Regions from separate parts of the Homo sapiens genome. Here regions 1, 2 and 3 are each linked to region 4. Evidence: fine-mapped expression QTL. A gene starts in region 4. Each other region holds a variant in brackets. All regions are shown on one strand. Distances are from middle to middle.

Evidence for each region. PIP is the estimated chance that this variant, and not a neighbour inherited with it, causes the effect. A credible set is the group of variants that fine-mapping cannot tell apart.
Region 1: its variant is the best candidate, but not a certain one, in a credible set for the expression of GCN1 in whole blood (INTERVAL, PIP 0.71).
Region 2: its variant is the best candidate, but not a certain one, in a credible set for the expression of GCN1 in lung (GTEx, PIP 0.51).
Region 3: its variant is the best candidate, but not a certain one, in a credible set for the expression of GCN1 in sigmoid colon (GTEx, PIP 0.67).

The regions. Positions count from the first base shown.
Region 1 is chr12:120,070,675-120,075,817 of GRCh38, reverse strand. BICDL1 (BICD family like cargo adaptor 1) reads right to left here. Exons shown (of 10, transcript NM_001367886.1): 5 at 4,017-4,196; 6 at 3,089-3,307; 7 at 1,232-1,375. Among named protein-coding and RNA genes, the nearest start is that of RAB35, 44 kb to the left of the region's middle. The variant G/C (reference allele first, on the strand shown) is at 2,719.
Region 2 is chr12:120,148,339-120,153,481 of GRCh38, reverse strand. It overlaps GCN1 (GCN1 activator of EIF2AK4), which reads left to right. Exons shown (of 58, transcript NM_006836.2): 33 at 75-269; 34 at 2,091-2,337; 35 at 3,439-3,560; 36 at 3,762-3,876; 37 at 5,136-5,143. Among named protein-coding and RNA genes, the nearest start is that of MIR4498, 4.6 kb to the left of the region's middle. The variant T/C (reference allele first, on the strand shown) is at 2,434.
Region 3 is chr12:120,221,457-120,226,599 of GRCh38, reverse strand. PXN (paxillin) reads left to right here. Exons shown (of 15, transcript NM_001385981.1): 2 at 2,223-2,449; 3 at 2,767-2,882; 4 at 3,601-3,737; 5 at 3,850-4,051; 6 at 4,842-4,977. It overlaps LOC124903034 (a long non-coding RNA gene), which reads right to left. Exons shown (of 3, transcript XR_007063487.1): 2 at 2,197-5,143; 3 at 1,179-2,120. Among named protein-coding and RNA genes, the nearest start is that of PXN-AS1, 23 kb to the right of the region's middle. RefSeq lists enhancers at 1-180, 197-246, 864-1,545 and silencers at 1,060-1,354, 1,663-1,712. The variant A/G (reference allele first, on the strand shown) is at 2,426.
Region 4 is chr12:120,192,165-120,197,307 of GRCh38, reverse strand. It overlaps GCN1 (GCN1 activator of EIF2AK4), which reads left to right and starts at 2,593. Exons shown (of 58, transcript NM_006836.2): 1 at 2,593-2,628. The coding sequence starts at 2,611. It overlaps RPLP0 (ribosomal protein lateral stalk subunit P0), which reads left to right. Exons shown (of 8, transcript NM_001002.4): 8 at 374-609. The coding sequence ends at 535. RefSeq lists a silencer at 2,296-2,885.

The DNA of each region.
Region 1 (5,143 bases), 120 kb after region 4:
GAGGACAGTAGATGGCTGGAGGTGGGTCTCCCGATATTTTCCAAGAAAATATCAGGAAGACTAACGGGATGACTCCCAGAAAAGGGGAGTTTCTTTCTATAAAGATATTTCAAATGTAGGAAATACTGACTGGGGCCACATGTGGTGGGTCACACCTGTAATCCCAGCACTTTGAGAGTCTGAGGTGAGTGGTTCTCTTGAGCCCAGGAGTTTGAGACCAGCCTAGGCAACATGGCGAACCCTCATCTCTACAAAAAATTAGTTGGGCATGGTGGCGTACGCCTGTAGTCCCAGCTACTTTGGCAGCTGAGGTGGAAGGATTGCTTGAGCCTAGAAGTCAAGGCTGCAATGAGCTGTGACTGCGCCACTATACTCCAGCCTGGGCAAGAGTGAAACCCTGTCTCAAAAAGAAATAAAAAAAAAAAAAAAAGAGGAAATACTGACTGAAGTGAAAGGCAGGCTTAAATTCCATCTCAAAGAAACCTCATGCAGCAGCAAGGCGTGAACAGCTTTGAGCCAGGAAAGGACAGGGGCAGGAGCAAGGTTTAGATGCTGCTTGCTTGGTGCTACCCCAGCCCCTACTCCCAAGCAGCACAGAACCTCTACACATGACCACAGTCAACAGGAAGAGCCTTTATCTATCTCCTAGGATAGGTTTTAGAAGCTCCTTTTTGGGTGGGGCTGCCTATAAGTCCTTTAAAGTTTCTCAGATGAGAATATAAATGTCTTCCTTCAGCGTTCTCTAGAGAGATGAAATCGTGATCAAATGAGAAAGGAACAGCAAGGGTAGCAGTAAGTTCTTCTAAAGCAGAAGAACAGGCTGAGAGAAGTGATGGCACTTACAAAAGGGAACTGTGCTGTAAAGATCAATTGTTCCTTGGTTTGCAAACTTCCCTGCCCAGCAACTGCTGGAAAAGCACCCATAAGTAGCCCGAGGGCTGTCAGCATCTACCAGTCAGATTAACTTTGGCTCTGTATAAGGCAGAGTGTCACTGGAGGAAATGGAGGACCAGCCATTCTCATCCCTGCCAATTTTACTTTGGGCTAAAGGACTGGGTTCTTCTCTTGAAGACATTCAGTTTACCTCAACTTCAGGTCACCATTCCTTGATGATCTGATGAAGGAGAGCCACTTCTCACACAGAAATGGGAGAGAGAAACTCAAAAGGGTCCCAAGAGAGCCAGGGGCAGGTGCACATGCCCTGCACTGAACTGAAGGTTGGGGTGCTCACCTGACTGTGGAGTCGCTGCAGCTCTTCTAGGCTTTGCCTCAGTTTACCCCTCTCTCCCTCCATGAGCTCCCTTAGGGCTCTCGAGTCCTCACTGGTCTGCCTTATCTGTTCTTCTAAGGAGTCATCATCAAGTCTCCGGGAGCCCTGACAGTAAAAGAAAGACAGCCAGACAGATATGGTAAGGGTACAGGAGAGATAGGGAAGGGGGAGAGAGATGGTTAGTCGGGGAGAGAAGGAGAGGAGAAATGGGGGAGAGTGGAGGAATGATGTGGGGAAAGATAGTGGGGAAAGATAGTAGGGAAGATGAAGGGAAGGAGAAAAGGAGGAGGGAAGAGACAAAAGGTGGAAGGAAGAAGGGGTCAAGAAGAGAGATTGTGGCCGGGCGCAGTGGCTCACGCTGTAATCCCAGCACTTTGGGAGGCCGAGGCAGCAGATCACGAGGTCAGGAGATCGAGACCATCCTGGCTAACACGGTGAAACCCTGTCTCTACTAAAAATACAAAAAATTAGCCGGGTGTGGTGGTGGGCACCTGTAGTCCCAGCTACTTGGGAGGCAGGAGAATGGCGTGAACCCGGGAGGCAGAGGTTGCAGTGAGCCAAGATGGCGCCACAGCACTCCAGCCTGGGCAACAGAGCGAGACTCCGTCTCAAAAAAACAAAAAACAAACAAAAAAAAGAGATTGCTCAATTTCAACCTGCAAACAGATGTTCACTTTTGTTTCAGGCTTGGGGGAAAGGAAGCCGTGTGGTGGGAATAGCACACCATCACATTCTGACAGCTCTCTTCTCCCACAATGACCTGGCCTCATAGTATAATACCTCCCACAGATCAATACGGCATGGTCAGACAGAACAGCTACCCTTCATATTACTTTACCCAATACAGGCAGAAAGACACAAGTTTTCTGTAGGAGGATGAAACGTGAGGAGAAATAATAGCCAAAAAGCTGGGAGCGTGAGTGGAGGGTAAGTCGGGGAGAAATGTGTCATGAAGCTGGAAGAAATGCCAGACTGCCCAGGATGCCCACGGGAACAGTCCTCTCCTCCACAGGTGGCCACATCTAGGATTCTAAAAGGCCCTTAGAGCTGATCTTCCCAACTTCCTGTGCTCACTTACATTCTTTTGGCGGAAGCTTCAGATCTTTTACTTTTGCCAATTCACAGCTAACCCTACCACTAGGACCAAAGGGCTATAGAATAGCAACTTACAGTTTTTACTTGGATACAAACTTCTATATGCAAAGTTTCCAAGGAAAGCCCTTAAACTGGAAGCTGCCATTGTCTGTACATCACTACCTGGAGAAAAAGGCTCTATGTGTACCTGGTGTGTGCAGGAAGCTGCCTTTGGAGCCCTGACACTTGGCCCCTCTGCCTCATCACAGCAGTAGTTGGTGTTCTCAAATAAGGGCTCACGGCCTGGCGTGGTGGCTCACGCCTGCAATCCCAGCACTTTAGGAGGCTGAGATGGGTGTATCACTTGAGGTCAA[G/C]AGTTAAAACTAGCCTGGCCAACATGGTAAAACCCTGTGTCTACTAAAAATGCAAAAACTAGCTGGGTGTGGTTGGTGGTGCACGCCTGTAATCCCAGCTACTCAGGGAGCTGAGGCACGAGAATCACTTGAACCTGAGAGGCAGAGGTTGCAGTGAGCCGAGATTGTGCCACCTCACTCCAGCCGGGGTAACAGAGCGAGACTCTGTCTCAAAAACAAAATCCAAAACAACCAATAAGGGCTCAGAAGAATTCTTGCAGATATTTTATAGGGTTCCAGTTCCATGGCTGACCTCACCCTATGCACTGGGTTCTAACCTCCCACCAGCCAGCTCCTGTGGGGTAAGGACCATCTCAGACTGGCCTCTTACCGTGGGCTCCATGCCATCCACAATGCTCTGTATCAGTCTCTTGAGCTCATTGAGGGCAGTGCGCAAGCTGCCGGCTGGCACATCCTTGGCGGACGAGGTTTCTGAAGACTCGTCCATGGAGGAGTCCGTGGAGACGGCTGAGTCAGCACTGTCATTGCCTCGAAGGTGTGAGCACAGATAGCGAACCTGGCAGTAGGCTTCCCAGAGCTGCAGTCTCAGCTGTTCCACAGAGAATTACTATTCATTTCAGACTCTAGAGAAGACTGCTACCTGGCCATCTTTTTCTAGCTCTGAACCCAAAATACTGATACCCAAGACACCAGTTCTAGAAGAAAGGGTTTTTTGTTCTGTGTTTTTTTTTTAACTCATTTGTCCCAAGAAATAATACTTATTCTGAACCAAGTACATTTATACAGATTCCAAATTCTTATTCTCCCTGTTCTCTAGCTTCTTCCATTCACAATATAAAGCACTTCTTTATATAATCAGTTATTTTGGTGGGAGTCAGAAAACAATCAGGGGAATGAATGGTTCTGTATTATGAAAAGTGTGAAAAGAAACCAGTTAGATGGAGAAGATGGATCATGACTGCTCTGGAACTCTGTCAGTATAACAGGTATGGAGCTGATGGCACAAGCATTTCCTAAGAGGAACTGGGGTGACAATGAGTGGGAATTGGCTGTGCCTATGATACTCTGTCCTCTAGCAATTCTGCTCAATGCCTTAATGGATAAAGTGGGTGGAAAATGGAGGGCCAGGGACATGCTCCATCAGGGCCTGCTTCATGACACTCTAGCCAGCAGGCCAAGGGGCTGACACAGGCACAGGGGCACAGCCTTGCCAGGATGGCAGCTGAGCACTAGGGAGGAGGATGAGACCTAAGCAACCCCAGGTAGCCTCGCCTGTGGGGTGACAGGCAGGTCAGCACCTGCTCTCGCTCCTGCTCCAGCTCCTCAGCCTCCATGCTCTGCTCGATCTCTGACAGGAGGGATGTGCTGGTGGCGGCAGAGCTCTGCAGACTCCTCTCCTCAGTGAGTTCTTCCACCTTCACCTGCAGCTGTCGGCAGGAGAGACGCACCTCCTGAAGCTCCAGCTGGCTTTGGTGCAGCTTTCAAAGAAAGAGCAAATGGTTGAGGTTTACCAAACACAAAAACCAAGACAAACTGACCCTCAACCTGATCATGCTTCTGGATCCAACCACCAATTTATAGAAAAATAAATAGGAGAGAAGAACATGTTAAACTACATCAGGAGATGCACTCAGCAAAATCCAGATCTAGAAAATTCTGACTGGGCGCGGTGGCTCACCCCTGTAATCCCAGCACTTTGGGAGGCCGAGGCGGGCAGATCACCTAAGGTCAGGAGTATGAGACCAGCCTGGCCAACATGATGAAACCCTGCCTCTACTAAAAATACAAAAATTAGCTGGGCGTGGTGGCGGGTACCTGAAATCCCAGCTACTTGGGGAATGAGGCAGGAGAATCGCTTGAACCCAGGAGGCGGACGTTGCAATGAGCTAAGATCACGCCATTGCACTCCAACCTGGGTGACAGTGCGAGACGCCACCTCAAAAAAGAAAAAAAGAAAAAAGAAAATTCTATAGGACAAACAACTCCATTTCCTTAACAAAAACATTGCAAGGGAAAAAACAGATAAAGGAGGAACACAGAAATAAAAAAAGACTTGAGTTATACCAACCAGGCCGGGCGTGGTGGCTCACGCCTGTAACACCAGCATTTTGGAAGGCCAAAGGGGGCAGATCATCTGAAATCAGGAGTTCGAGACCAGCCTGGCCAACATGGTGAAATCTGTCTCTACTAAAATACAAAAATTAGCTGGGCATGGTGGCAGGCGCCTGTAATCCCAGCTACTCGGGAGGCTGAGGCAGGAGAATCGCTTGAACCCAGGAGGCGGAGGTGACAGTGAGCCGAGATTGCGCCATTGCACTCCAGCCTGGGCGACAAGAATGAAACTCCGTCTCAAAAAAAAAAAAAAAGAGTTATACCAACCAATCGCACTATGTAGGCCCATTTTAATCTGTATCTTGATTCAAAC
Region 2 (5,143 bases), 44 kb after region 4:
TCAGGGCAGGGACTGTTGTCCCCAGATGCAGCCTGTAGGGTTGACCTGAGGCTCTGAGGGGTTTGGCTTTCCAGGAGAACGTCAACTCGCTGTTGCCAGTATTCGAGGAGTTCCTGAAGAACGCGCCCAATGATGCCAGCTATGATGCTGTGCGACAGAGTGTGGTGGTCCTGATGGGCTCTCTGGCCAAGCACCTGGACAAGAGTGACCCCAAAGTGAAGCCCATTGTTGCCAAGCTCATCGCTGCCCTCTCCACCCCCTCCCAGCAGGTACCTGCCATCTGGCCTGGGACCCACATGTCGGTTAGAGAATTGGGACCCGGCTGTGGTTAGGCGGTGGGATACTAGGGGTGGAGTTGGACAATCAGGGCCCTGAAAGCCCAGTTCTTGTTAAGGATTCACCCCCTCTCGCAGGGGAGAGCCTGGTTTATAGTCAGGAACACTCCTGGAGAGGGAGTTTCTTTGTTACTTTGTTCTAGTAGACCTCCCAGATAGTTTCATTTTTTTCTACTCACCTGGTTTATAGTGAAGAATGCCCCTGGAGAGGGAGTTTCTTTGTTACTTTGTTCTAATAGACCTCCTAGATAGTTCCATTTTTTCTATTCACTAACGTGCACTGGGAATCCAAAGGGAAAAAAAATAAAAGGTCAGGCTTTCTCTTATGTCAAGCCTTTTTCTGGCCCTCTACATGTGTTGGTTGTGTGTTACAGGTGCGTTTTAATGTAGCCTCTAAGCTACAGTGCAAATAAATTTCTTTTTCTTTGTTTTGAAAAACACGCATGTATGTATATATAAATATATATATATTTATATATATATATTTTGTGTGTGTGTGTGTGTGTGTGCGCGTGTGTGTGTGGTTTGCATTTTGGACCACTTAGAGTGTCTTCATAAAGTGAACAGTTGGGCTGGGCGTGGTGGCTCATGCCTATAATCCCAGTGCTTTAGGAGGCTACAGGTGCGTTTTAATGTAGCCTCTAAGCTACAGTGCAAATAAATTTCTTTTTCTTTGTTTTGAAAAACACGCATGTATATATATATAAATATATATATATTTATATATATATATTTTGTGTGTGTGTGTGTGTGTGTGCGCGTGTGTGTGTGGTTTGCATTTTGGACCACTTAGAGTGTCTTCATAAAGTGAACAGTTGGGCTGGGCGTGGTGGCTCATGCCTATAATCCCAGTGCTTTAGGAGGCTGAGGTGGGAGGATTGCTTAAGGCCAGTAGTTCGAGACCAGCCTGGGCAACATAGTGAGATCCTGTCTCTACAAAAACTTTAAAAATTAGCCAGAGGTGGAGGCCATGCCTGTGTTCCTAGCTACTCAGGAGACCGAGGCAATAGGATTGCTTGAGTCCAGGAATTCAAGGTTATAGTGAATTATGATTGTGCCACTGCACTGTAGCCTGGGTGACAGAGTAAGACCCTATTTCTAAAAACAAAAACAAAAAACAACAAAAAACTTTACCAAAAAAATGCACAGTTGAAAACCAGTTTCCAAAATTGTGGTCAAATATGGTGTCAGAAAGCCTAAGCAGCAAAAGAGTCGCACCTGGGCACCTGCCAGCATGGCCTCGGGGTTGCTGCTCCCAAGCTGGGCTTAGTGAGCTGCGGCTGGGAGGCAGGATTGAGTGTCTTTTGGTTCCACTCAATTTGTGCCTGGTCCTATAAGGCCCTGCCCAATTTCTCTGTGATTTTGACAAGTTTGGAAACAGAGACACGGGCTGTTTTTATGGAGGCAAAGCAGCACACTTCTCTGGAAGCTTTCTTTCTGAGTGGATTTAGTCTTTAGAGTCCCTTCCTTGGTCCCCTGCCCCACTGCCCAGGCCTAGGTTTTCCATTTAGACCAGAAATGGCACCATATGGGCCAAAGCTTTTGTCGTCAGCAGATTGTAGTGTGCACCCTCAGAGGTATACAACACTGTGTATACCTGTTTGCTTCTCTGGTGCCCTGTGACATCCGCAGGCAGTGGCTGAGATGGGGCTTGGGACATCTAGTGGTGGGTGCTGTGTAGAATGGTCAGACCCCCCACCAACCATGAAACGGCTGCAGCGGAGCCACAGCATTGACAGGTGGGCCCTTCCCCAGGTCCAGGAGTCCGTAGCCAGCTGCTTGCCACCCCTTGTGCCAGCCATCAAGGAGGATGCTGGAGGGATGATCCAGAGGCTTATGCAGCAGCTGCTGGAGTCAGACAAGTACGCAGAGCGCAAAGGGGCCGCCTATGGCCTGGCGGGCCTGGTGAAGGGCCTGGGCATCCTCTCGCTGAAGCAACAGGAGATGATGGCGGCACTGACTGATGCCATCCAAGATAAGAAGAACTTCCGCCGGCGAGAGGGTGAGCATCTCTGAGCTTGGGGCTGCCCAGCATGGGAAGTTGGTCCCCAGGTTGCCAGAGGAAGGAATCTGACCGTGGCGCCCCAGGTGGAGGCCG[T/C]TGCTTGTGCGTGTACTACAGAGGGCCCCGCTGTGTGCGACCCAGTCCAGCTGCGTCCTTGCTGCTTTCCTTGGACTTGCAAATTTTTTTTTCTTTTCTGTTTTTTTTTTTTGAGACGGAGTCTCGCTCTGTCGCCCAGGCTAGAGTGCAGTGGCGTGATCTTGGCTCACTGCAAGCTCAGCCTCCTGGGTTCATGCCATTCTCCTGCCTTAGCCTCCCAAGTAGCTGGGACCACAGGCGCCCGCCACCACGCCCGGCTAATTTTTTGTATTTTTAGTAGAGGCGGGGTTTCACCGTGTTAGCCAGGATGGTCTCGATCTCCTGACCTCGTGATCTGTCCGCCTCAGCCTCCCAAAGTGCTGGGATTACAGGCATGAACCACCGCGCCCGGCCACAAATTTCTAACTCAGCAACACCCTTAGCTGAGAGAGGTTTGGCTTTTCTTTCTTTCTTTCTTTCTTTTTTTTTTGAGATGGAGTCCCACTCTGTCTCCAGGCACAATCTCGGCTCACTGCAATCTTCACCTCCTGGGTTCAAGCAATTCTCCTACCTCAGCCACCCTAGTAGCTGGGGTTACAGGTGCCCACCACCATACCCAGCTAATTTTTGTATTTTTAGTAGAGACAGGGTTTCACCATGTTGGCCAAGATGGTCTCTATTTCCTGACCTCGTGATCTGCCTGCCTCAGCCTCCCAAAGTGTTGGGATTATGGGTGTGAGCCACCGCGCCCGGCCAAGGTTTGGCTTTTTTAACTGTTAGTGCCAAGAAGTGAAGGTGGCTCCCCTGTGCTGTCCTCCCTTTCGCTCAGCCACATTCCTTTGCTGGGGCTTCTTGAGCTGAGGCAGAGGGTGCTGCCTCCTCATGGGGCATCTACTAGTTCCACAGCTGTTTCTGAGTGTTTCCAGAGGGGTGGGAGGTGGCAGGGAGGTTGCTGTCCCTTCTGTTCTCTGTGGCTACCCCCAGGGGACATTCTCTTCCCAGCCGTCCCACCTTCTTTTCCCCTAGGAGCCCTCTTTGCCTTCGAGATGCTCTGCACCATGCTGGGGAAACTTTTTGAGCCGTATGTGGTTCACGTGCTGCCCCATCTGCTCCTGTGCTTTGGGGATGGAAACCAGTATGTGCGTGAGGTAAGTCCCCGGACTGCTCGGGAGAACAGCATGGAAACTTTATGAGATGTGTTCCCAGCTGTGTCTGCAGGCCTTGGCACAGGGTCTGACATAATAGAACCCCAGTAAGCGTTGGTTATAGGAGGAACGCTAGGACTGGTGTCAGGCCTTGCCCCTTGCTTGGGTGAGGAGGCCCCTGAATGTGTTTTCTCCCCCCTTGAGGCTGCAGATGACTGTGCCAAGGCTGTGATGAGCAACTTGAGTGCTCACGGGGTGAAGCTGGTGCTCCCCTCCTTACTGGCTGCCCTGGAGGAGGAATCGTGGCGGACCAAAGCTGGTAAGACCACTCGCTCTGCCTCTCTTCCCAGCTTCCTGTTATGAAAACCAGCCTCAGCAAGGATCCTGGGTAGCCACAGCTCTTGTCCTGTGAGCTCCCCAGACCAGGGATAGGGTTAAGACTCTGCCTTTTTAAAAATTTGAGATGGAGTCTTGCTCTATCACCCAGGCTGGTCTTTACCTTTGGGGCTCAAACCATTCTCACAGGAGCATGCCACTACACCTGGCTAATTTTTGTATTTTTTTTTGTAATGATGGAGTCTCGCTATGTTGCCCAGACTGGCCTTGAATTCCTGGGTTCAAGTGACCCTCCTGCCTTGGCCTCCCAAAGCACTGGGATTGCAGGTGTGAGTCACCACGCCTGGCCAGCTCTCCCTCTGGCAGTTGGATCTTTCTATAGTTTATGTGCTTTCATGCCAAGAAACAGGTCTCTGACAAGAGCCACAACCCTAAGTCAGGATATCCTAAAGCTCTAAAGCTCCTCTTTGGCTTTAAAGTTTTCCCCCCCCAGGAAAGCTCTTTTTGAAAATAACCTTAGGCAGGAGAATCTCTTGAGGGCAGGAATTTAGACCAGCCTGGGCAATATAGCAAGACCCTACCTCTACCAAAAAAAAAAAAAATAGGCCAAGTGTGGTGGTGCATGCCTGTAGTCCCAGCTACTCAGGAGGCTGAAGTGGAAGGATCACTTGAGCCCTGGAGTTTGGGGCTGCAGCGAGCTATAATCTTGCCACCACACTCCAACCTGGGCAGCAGCGTGAGACCCTGTCTCAAAAATAAATAAATAAAATGTCTGGCACCCTAATAAGCAAACAGATAAAAGTAGAGCTGCTCTAGTTGGGGGAGGATCACCATCTAAGGCCCTCCCACTCAACCTCCTTCTCAGTCCTTCAGGCTTCACCCTGTAGTTTGAAACAACACAAATCTAAATCAGTTTCCTCATTTGTGGATGAAGAAACAGTTCAGAGAAATTCAGTGAATTGGCCTTGGATCTCACTGTAAGGATTAAACCAGGTCTTACCTATCCTGGTCTCTTTCTCCCATACTGCCCTGCCTCTCACCTGGGATCCCACTGTTCAGCAGGCCACAAGAGCTTTTTCGACCCCTCTGCTAGAGCCAGCCCCCTCTCCCCTCCTCCCAGTGACTGCTTGAGCACCGTCTGCAGGGGCCAGGGTAGATGTCCCTTGCTCATGTAGCCAGCACAGGTGAGTTGCTGGCCTTTGCTCAGTGATTCAGTACTGGGCTTGTGTCTGCTATCCACAGGGTCAGTG
Region 3 (5,143 bases), 29 kb before region 4:
ACCAAAAGCCCAGGCTTAGAATCACATTGTGGTGGAGCGGGTGTTTGGTGGAGTCCCTGATTCAAAATGTTTGACAAGGAAGCCTGACCATTTGTCTTCTGTTGGGTGTTTGGAGTCCAAGAGACCTGAGATCAGAGTCCAGCATTGTCACTTCATCCAGCCTTGGCAGTGTGGGATGTGACTCTGCCTCTGAACCGCAGTTATACCATCTGTGCTGGTGGCGTTGTGAGGATGGCAGGTAACAAAGGTGAAGCTCCTGGCCCCAGTGGGCCTTCAAGGATGGCAGCTGCTCCTGCCCCCTACTGGGGTTGCACTCATTCGTTGCCTGCTCTGGGGAGTCCTATGGGGTTTCTTAGCTGGCCCTGCCCATGGTGGAGAAAGAGGGATCCACCCATTGCTGATTGGGCCCAGAGGAAATGAGGACACTGCGTGAAGCCAAGACAGCAGGTGTGGCCCTGGAGAGGCCGTGGGGATTGGCCTGGACACTGGTTCCTTTTCTGCCGTTACCTAGATACCTACCAACTCCCTCTAGTTCCGGTTTGCTAGAGACAGGAAGCCAGGCCTCCTCCATGGGACCCGGAGGGCGGGGCGGGCTGTAGGACCTGAACTTCCTTGGAGGTCAGGCGACCAGACCCGGGGTCCTGGGCCTTGGAACAGACATCCCCTCTGTCCATCTGGGCAGGAGCATGGGGTAGGTGTGGCCAGCCTTGAGGGTAGGAGATCAGGACAGGCAGCTGGGACAAGGTGTGGCCCCATAGACCGAGGCCCTGGGTGAGGGCCTTGCTTCTCTATTCCCTCCTCTGAACACAGGTTGGGGGACTGGGAGCAAGGCCACAAGGAAGGATCACACTGGCAGGCCTCACAGCTTGGGCCTCCAACATTCAGGAAGTTGAACCCTTTAAGTATGGCATCATCTGGTAGTCATAGTGGCCTCTTACAGGCCAGGTTTTTGGGGTTTGGGGCTTCTGAGGAGTCAGACAATTGTGCCACTCACTGGCTTTGTTATTTGGAGCAAACACCTCTGACCTCTGCCTCTCCAAGCCCGGCTTTCCTCATCGCTTCGGGGAGAATCATTTCCAGCTACAGGGGGTATTAGGGGGATTAACGGAGACCTCGTACATGCTGCTAGAATGCCTAGCAGTCTGCCTGCTACTGATAAGTGGCAATAAACGCAGCCATTGCTTTTTAGATGTTTATTATCCTGAGGGCTAGGGATCAAGCTGTCAGCTCCCTGGACCCAGCAGGTTACCGGGGAGCTGAGAGCAAGCAAGTTGTGAACGGGGCAGGAATGAGGGTGTGGCATCCAGGGCCAGGCTGTCTGAGCCGTGGGGCTGTTGAGGGTCCCAGGAGGGGATGGAGGAAGTGGGGGTCAGCAGGTCCTACTCCTGCCCTTCTATACCCTTCTTTTCTGGAGACTGGGGAGACCTAGTGCCCCCCTGTTGGCTGCCAGGTGCCAGGGTAATGGAAGCTTACACTAGAGGGCTGATTTGGCTCCCTTGCCGCTGTTAAAAGCAGAACAGTGGGGGCCTGGAGCCTCTGGGGCCGGGCTGCTTGCCAGACTTCCGCAGAAACAGCCAATGGAGCAGTCTTGCCCCCTGCTCACTGAGGGGGTGGGGACCGCTGCACCAGCCTCACTCCAGCCCCCACCTCCCCGCACACCTTACCCCATAAGCCTAGAGCCTCAGGAGGAACCTGGAGCCTGGGCTTCTGCTTCCACCTGGTTAGGAGGGCAGGGACCATCCTGAGTGCCCCTTCCAGTCGGGGGCTGGGAAAGCCTAAGCTCTTAGAAATCAAGTGAGGGCCTGGCATAGCCAGGGCCCCTCCCTGTGACGTGGGGCCCCTCCCGCCCATTCTCTCCGCGTTGCCCTGCAGATTCAGAGTTCCAGACAGGCACTTCACTCGCGGCTGCGCGGCCCTGTCAGGAGGGAACGCAGTGCCAGGTGCCTGACTCCCAGAGGTAGGAGATCCCACAGGGCAGCCCCAGAGCCCGCCTCTAGAGCACTTTCAGTCCTGGGTGGCCAGAAGAAGTTAGCTTTGGGAGCCGGCTCTTGGTTAGGCTGGTCGGGGCTGGTGGCTTCCTGTCCCAAGGCTGGTCATTTCTCCCATGGGTGGGGCAGGTGCTAGAAGGCATTAACTCTTGAGGTGCAGGCAGGGAGGGCCCTGCCACGGGAGAGTCCCCAGGATCCCGGTTCTCACCTGCTACCCGTGCCTTCTCTTTGCAGACGCCCTGCTGGCGGACTTGGAGTCTACCACCTCCCACATCTCCAAACGGCCTGTGTTCTTGTCGGAGGAGACCCCCTACTCATACCCAACTGGAAACCACACATACCAGGAGATTGCCGTGCCACCCCCCGTCCCCCCACCCCCGTCCAGCGAGGCCCTCAATGGCACAATCCTTGACCCCTTAGACCAGTGGCAGCCCAGC[A/G]GCTCCCGATTCATCCACCAGCAGGTGAGGCGGGGACAGTGGCTGGGAAGGCCAAGGAGGCTGGGGGACAGAGGGAACTTAGCTGGCAGGGGCTTAGGGAGCCAGGGGATGGAATGGAATTGGGGCAGTCGACCCTTCCCAACCAGACACTGCTCTTCCCACTCACCACGTGAGTGGAACAGTGACCAAGTGGTTAATCACAGGTTTCCTGGCCCAACTGTGGAAATTCCCTGGTGAGACTGGCTGTGGGCAGGAGCCTCCTGGGGGTGACTGGAGCTGCTCCTGGCCCCTGTTCCTTTTTCTCCCCTCGGGGTAGCCTCTGAGCATTCTCCTTCTCGCAGCCTCAGTCCTCATCACCTGTGTACGGCTCCAGTGCCAAAACTTCCAGTGTCTCCAACCCTCAGGACAGTGTTGGCTCTCCGTGCTCCCGAGTGGGTGAGGAGGAGCACGTCTACAGGTACTGCCCCAGTCTGCCCAGGGCACCTTCCCTCCTGCTTAGAAATCTCAGGGACCTGGCCAGGGTGGGAGGCAGCGGAGGCCCGGGAGCAGGCATAGCAACTGGGCCTTGTGGGGTTATTCTGGTTTAAGCTGCAGAAGGCCTGTCGGTGGGCCCGTCTACCTCATCAGTGCCATCTCCATGCAGTGGACATTCTGGGCTATCACAGCATCTCCGTGTAGCTGAGGAACTGAAGCAAGACTTCATTCCTCCCCTCTTCTTTTTTTCTTTTTTTTTGAGACGGGGTCTCGCTCTGTCACTCTGTCGCCCAGGCTGGAGTGCAGTCGCGCGATCTCGGCTCACTGCAAGCTCCGCCTCCTGGGTTCACGCCATTCTCCTGCCTCAGCCTCCCAAGTAGCTGGGACTACAGGCACCCACCACCACGCCTGGCTAATTTTTAGTAGAGACGGGGTTTCACCGTGTTAGCCAGGATGGTCTCAATCTCCTGACCTCATGATCTGCCCGCCTCAGCCTCCCAAAGTGCTGGGATTACAGGCGTGAGCCACTGTGCCCGGCCTCCTCCCCTCTTCTTACCACATCCCTTCCCTACCCTCTGTCCTCTTGCGGGGGAAGACTTCGCATCTCCTCTGCCTTGTTCTCCTTGGGAATCTGGGAACTGCCAAGCCAGTACAAGGCCAGAAAGCATCTCTCACTATCTTCTTTCCTTTGCCTCTCAAAGCTTCCCCAACAAGCAGAAATCAGCTGAGCCTTCACCCACCGTAATGAGCACGTCCCTGGGCAGCAACCTTTCTGAACTCGACCGCCTGCTGCTGGAACTGAACGCTGTACAGCATAACCCGCCAGGCTTCCCTGCAGGTAGGACCGGGTCCCTGGGGCAGGGTCTACCAGGGCCCAGGGCCCATCTGCTGACCTCTAGATCCCAGGAGGGCTCAAGGGCTGAGCAGCCTTTTTCTCTCCTCTCTGCAAGATGAGGCCAACTCAAGCCCCCCGCTTCCTGGGGCCCTGAGCCCCCTCTATGGTGTCCCAGAGACTAACAGCCCCTTGGGAGGCAAAGCTGGGCCCCTGACGAAAGAGAAGCCTAAGCGGAATGGGGGCCGGGGCCTGGAGGACGTGCGGCCCAGTGTGGAGAGTCTCTTGGATGAACTGGAGAGCTCCGTGCCCAGCCCCGTGTGAGTACCCACTGGGCCCTCCCCAGGTGGGGAAGGGCTGGCCCAGCCTGCCCCGGGTCCAGTGTCTGTCCCCTTAGCCCTGGTATCACCCACTCCCTCCCGTGTCTGCCATTTGCCAGGCACTGGGGGGATAGTGGTGAGTCACATGGACACCATCCCTGCCTTCAGCCAGTCACTGCCAGTCAGAAAGGACAGACGTTGTGCAGGCTGAGGGCGCCTGGAGCTTAGCAGCTCTTAGCACAGGCTTTGGGGCCACACAGTGGGGTTCACATCTTGGCTCTGACAGTTACTGTCAGCTCTCAAGCCTTAGTTTTCCCATCTGTAAAATGGGACAAGAACTTATGGGATCACTGGGATAAGACCACCTACCTCAGTAAGGGTGAGAACCAGTAATCCATGTAAAGCGCTTGGAATGGTTTCTGGTGTGTAGTGCGTGGCACACATGGTGAGTGCCCAACACGCGAGCTCTTACCAGTGCCGTCGTGTTACTGCAGTAGCCTCACCTCCATGTCCAGTGTTGTGGAGGAAACACAGGGCGCTTGGGCTTGTTTCGCAGGCCAGCTTTCACTTGGGCTGGGGGCTAGAGGAGTCTTCCTGGCACTTCCTGGTGCCATTGAACTGCCCTTTCTTCTGACCCAGTGATGGGTCCCCAGGAGAGACAGGGAGCTGGTGGACCTCCCTGGGGTTGGGGATGGTGAGACCCCAGTGTCCGAGGTGAGAGGTCGATCTGATCCCCGGGAAGTGTGGGGCTGACTGTGGGCTCCCCACTGATGCTGTGCCCACCCTGCAGCCCTGCCATCACTGTGAACCAGGGCGAGATGAGCAGCCCGCAGCGCGTCACCTCCACCCAACAGCAGACACGCATCTCGGCCTCCTCTGCCACCAGGGAGCTGGACGAGCTGATGGCTTCGCTGTCGGATTTCAAGGTGCCCTGTGAACCCTCCATCTTCCCTGCCCTGCCGCCCCTCCCTCATCCTTCTCCTCCCTTACCTCAGTGTGGGTAGCTGGATCTTGGCATCTCAGTGTTTGGGTGCCTTGCCCCTGAGCCAGGGACACTGTCATGCCCTGGCCTTGCTGTGATGCCAGGAGATG
Region 4 (5,143 bases):
CCAGGACCACAGTGGGCCTGACTGTGACAAATTAGCAGGGTGATGTGGCCTTCTACCTTACTGCTTTTATAGTTGTATTTTATATAGCAGATAATTTTGTGAGGGGATATTTGAGAGGTTGGGAGGCAGGGAAGGCGTTTCTCACTTGAGAAATGACAAGAGACCCAAAGAGGGGGTTAATGGGCAAGAGCTGGGCCTTAGGAACCCTGCCTCACTAGGCCATACCCAAGCTGTCCTGCTTGGGCTGCTTCTGACAGGAAAGGCTTCACACGGACTTTGATATTGTTGGTCCTTAAACTCTACCAAGGCAGGAGGGTGGTGGGTAATAGAGGAGTGTGGATGACCATTTTGACCACTTCCCCCCTCCTTTCAGGTCAAGGCCTTCTTGGCTGATCCATCTGCCTTTGTGGCTGCTGCCCCTGTGGCTGCTGCCACCACAGCTGCTCCTGCTGCTGCTGCAGCCCCAGCTAAGGTTGAAGCCAAGGAAGAGTCGGAGGAGTCGGACGAGGATATGGGATTTGGTCTCTTTGACTAATCACCAAAAAGCAACCAACTTAGCCAGTTTTATTTGCAAAACAAGGAAATAAAGGCTTACTTCTTTAAAAAGTCTCTGGACTCTTAATTTTGTAATTTTTTTTCCTTTTTGACACAGGGTCTGGCTGTTGCCCAGGCTGGAGTGTGGTGGTGTAATCATAACTCACTGCACCCTTGAACTCCTGGGATCAAGGGATCCTCGTATCTCAGCCTCCCAAGTAGCTGGGACTACAGGCACACACCATGACACTCAGCTACTAATTTTTAAATTTTTTTTTTGTAGAGATATTGCACAAGCTGGTCTCAAATTCCTGGCCTCAAGGAATCCTGCCTCAGCCTCCCAAAGTGCTAGGATTACAGGCTTGAGCCACCATGTGCCTGGCCCTTAATTTTGAGGTTTATAGTGCCATATGCTAGAAACGAAAGCCATGGTAAAACCAGAGCTTTGTATTTAGGTGTTGATGTTTGGGTATCTAAATGAAGCTACCAATCAAACATCCTATACAGTTTTCTAGACACAGTTGTAACTATTACACTAGAATTACTGTTTCTATGGCTGCTGCATACTTGGAGTAGGTTTAGTGTCAGCTGAGATAGGCACCTGGTGGATGCTGGGGCCAGTCCCCTAGAGTAAAGTTTTTCAAACTGGGTGGTGCTCCAACTCGGTGGTAACCAATTTATATTTTCGAGATAGTCTCAAATATATTTGAGACTGGGGTGCAGTGGCTTGGACTTGGCTCACTGCAACCTCCGCCTCCTGGGTTCAAGTGATTCTCCTGCCTCAGCCTCCCAAGTAGCTGCAATTACCGGAGGCTGCCACCACACCGGGCTAATTTTTTTGTTGTTGAGACAGTCTCGTCCTGTCACCCAGACTGGAGTGCAATGGTATGGTCTCAGCTCACTGCAACCTCTGCCTCTCGGGTTCAAGCGGTTCTCCCACCTCAGCCTCCCCAGTAGCTGGGACTACAGGCATGTGCCACCACTCGGCTAATTTTTGTACTTTTAGTAGAGACGGGGTTTCACTATGTTGGCCAGGCTGGTCTGGAACTCCTGACCTTGTGATCTGCCCGCCCTGTCCTCCCGAAGCGCTGGAATTATACAAGGGTGAGCCACCGCACCCGGCCTTTTTTTTTTTTTTTTTTTTTTTTGGTATTTTTAGTAGAGACAAGGTTTTGTCATGTTGACCAGGCTGGTCTGGAAATCCTAACATCAGGTTGATCTACCCACCTCAGCCTCCCAAAGTGCTGGGATTACAGGCGTGAGCCACCATGCCTGGCCCCAGTATTTAAAGAGAAAGCAGCATCTGCTGAGAATAGGTGTTTTTGTTGTGATTCCTGTATTTCACTTAGAGATCTGTCTGCTGGAACATGATATATTCATTCTAACTAGGTCTGTGTCAAAGGTTTGAAAGCCACTGCTAACAGGGCTGACAACTAAGCTGTGGAGACCCTGTTCCCTAAATTGCAGCCACGTCTGCACGTAGCCTCTTGCCCTGTGGCCTTCAAAACTCCCAGCCTGGGGCGTCCAGCATTTCCCCAGGGCAGGGGCCTCGTTCAGTTCTGAACCTTCCCTGACCTCCGTATCCAGCCACGTTTGCTAACCCTGTACAAGTCATCCGCCAACTGAACTACAAACTGAGGACAAAAGACTAGTTCACCGACTCTTTTACCTAGTTTTTAGTTCCTGCTATCTAGGAAGCAACACTTGTTTTTCTAAAGAACTTAGTCATCACTCAGGAAAGGCCCACGTAGGGCTGGCCCTGCGGGCTGGAAGTGGGTCAGGGGCTGCAAGGCGGGCCCATAGCGTTACACCGCGGGCTCACCACGTTACAAGCGCTAGTCTCCCACGAGGCGCCCGGGGCTGAAGAGCGGGCCCTGGGGAGGAGGCCTTGTGGCTCGGGCGCGGGCCAACTTTAAGCCCGTGATCCGGCTGCCCGGGCTGCAGCGGCCGCCGTCCTGCCCGGGGGCACCAAGCCCGGGGCCCTGCCCCCGCTGGCTCCCGGCCTCGCCCTGCCGCGTGGGCCACGCTGTGACCCGGAAGCGTTCCGGAAGCGGTTCCGGAGTCAGCCCCGGCAGGATGGCGGCGGACACGCAGGTGAGGCGGGCGGCTGCGGGGCCAACGCGGCCAGGGACTGGGTGCGGACGGTGGCCGTCGGGCGGGGCCCCTCTCGCTCCTCGGCTTAGGGGCGTTGGAGGTGGTGGCTGTGGAGGTCGTAGTCTCGGGGCCGTCTCAGGCTGGACTCTCAGGGCTGCGGGCTTGGCCCGGCCCGGGCGGCGCAGGCAGACCGCGGGCTCGAGGAGTCCGGGGCTCCCGCCTCGACTTCAGCAGCTGGAGCTCGGCGGGGCCTTTGCCCGACCCCAGAGTTGCAGAAGTTCACTTTACCGAGCCTCTACTTCTTTTCTCCAAAGCCCTCCGGCTGTGAGCCCCGGGCCAACGCCAAGTCTTCCTTAAACTTTGTATTCAGCAAATATTCTTTGAGCACCTACTATGAGCAGGGACTTTGAGTGTAGTCTTTGGATTCATACAGATCTGGGCTTGAGTTCCTGCTCGTCGATTTCTGTGACATGCCAAACAAGTGACTTAACCCCGCCAAGTCTGCCTTTTCATCTATAAAATGAAGTTAAAACAATACTTATCTTAAAAGGTTGTTGTGAAGGTTCAGTGAGATAAAATACGGCTTGATATATGTTGGTTGTTATCAGATCCAGGGTTAGTGAAAAGAACTGTCCTGTCCAGGAAGAGTGTTACCTATGGGTACCTTGTAGTTCAGGAAGGACCTGGGAAAACCTTTTCCTCCACCCAGTTGTTATGTTTTAAGGTGAAAAGACATTGTCATGAGGCAGGGGAAGAACAGGTGTCTAAGGACAGCTGGGCTGATTTGGTGTCTCCAGGGTGATGGGATTGATTTTTATGTGTAGGCCCAGAAAATGACCACTTAAGCATTCAAAAAGACATTTACTGAGACTCCTATGCAGGTGGCTGATGTTCAAGTTATGTTGTACTGAATACTAGAAAGAAAAGCTTAGTATGAGAGGGTTAGGGGAATACATGCTGAATGTTTAACATTGATACTCACTTGAGGGAAAAATCTCTAGAGCTGCAATGTCCAGTATGGCAGCCACATGGCTTAAGTTTGTTAAAATTAAATTAAATAAAAAAATTCATTGTTTGGCTGGGCGTGGTGGCTCACCCTGTAATCCCAGCACTTTGGGAGGCCAAGGCGGGTGGATCAGTTGAGGTCAGGAGTTTGAGACTAGTCTGACCAACGTGGCAAAACCCCGTCTCTACTAAAAATGCAAAAAATTAACCGGGTATGGTGGCATGTCTGTAATTCCAGCTACTCAGGAGGCTGAGGCATGAGAATCGCTTGAACCTGGGAGGCAGAGGTTGCAGTGAGCTGAGATCGCACCACTGCGCTCCAGCCTGAGCAACAAGAGTGGGACTCTGTCTCAAAAAAAAAAAAAATTTAGTTCTTCACTTGTACCAGCCACATTTCAGTGCACAGTTAGCCACATGTAGCCAGTGGCTACCGTATTGGGTGGTGCAGGAGAATATTTCTGTATTTTATAATTTTTGTATTTTTAGTAGAGATGGGGTTTCTCCATGTTGGCCAGGCTGGTCTCGAATTCCTGACCTCAGGTGATCCTTCTGCCTTGGCCTCCCAAAGTGCTGGGATTACAGGCGTGAGCCACCGCACCTGGCCTGAAATTATTTTTTATTATTTTATTTTATTTTTTGAGACGGAGTTTCTCTCTTGTTGCCCAGGCTGGAGTGCAATGGCACGATCTGAACTCACTGCAACCTCTGCCTCCCAGGTTCAAGCAATTCTCCTGCCTCAGCTTCCCGAGTAGCTGGGATTACAGGCATGCGCCACCATGCCCGGCTAGTTTTTGTAGAGACAGGGTTTCACCATGTTGGGTAGGCTGGTCTCGAACTTCTGACCTCAAGCAATCTGTCCGCCTCTGTCTCCCAAAGTGCTGGGATTACAGGCGTGAACCACCATGCCCGGCCTTGTCTTCAGTATTCTTTTTTTTTTTTTTTCGAGACGGAGTCTCGCTCTGTCGCCCAGGCTAGAGTGCAGTGGCACAATCTTGGCTCACTACAACCTCTGCCTCCCGGGTTCAAGCGATTCTTCTGCCTCAGCCTCCCAAGTAGCTGGGATTACAGGCACCCGGCACCACGCCCAGCTAATTTTTTTTTTTGTATTTTTAGTAGAGACGCGGTTTCACCATGTTGGCCAGGATGGTCTCGATCTCCTGACCTTGTGATCTGCCTGCCTTGGCCTCCCAAAGTGCTGGGATTACAGGCGTGAGCCACTGCACCCAGCCTTGTCTTCAGTATTCTAAAGGAAAATGATTTCAACCTAGAATTCTGTATTTGGCCAGAACATTTTCATACTTGCAAGGAGTTTACAAAATGGAGGCTGTGCTTCACCCAAACACAAGAAAGTACATGTTCAGGGTGATAAACTGTGCCCCAGCTGTAGAGGATCACATGCCTAATTGGGGCAGGTCAGAAAACTCTGGGAGAGATTTCCTTAGGAAGGTGGAATTTGATGGAATACCTGATCTCCCTAAATGTACTGAGATTTAGACAAATGGCAAAAAGT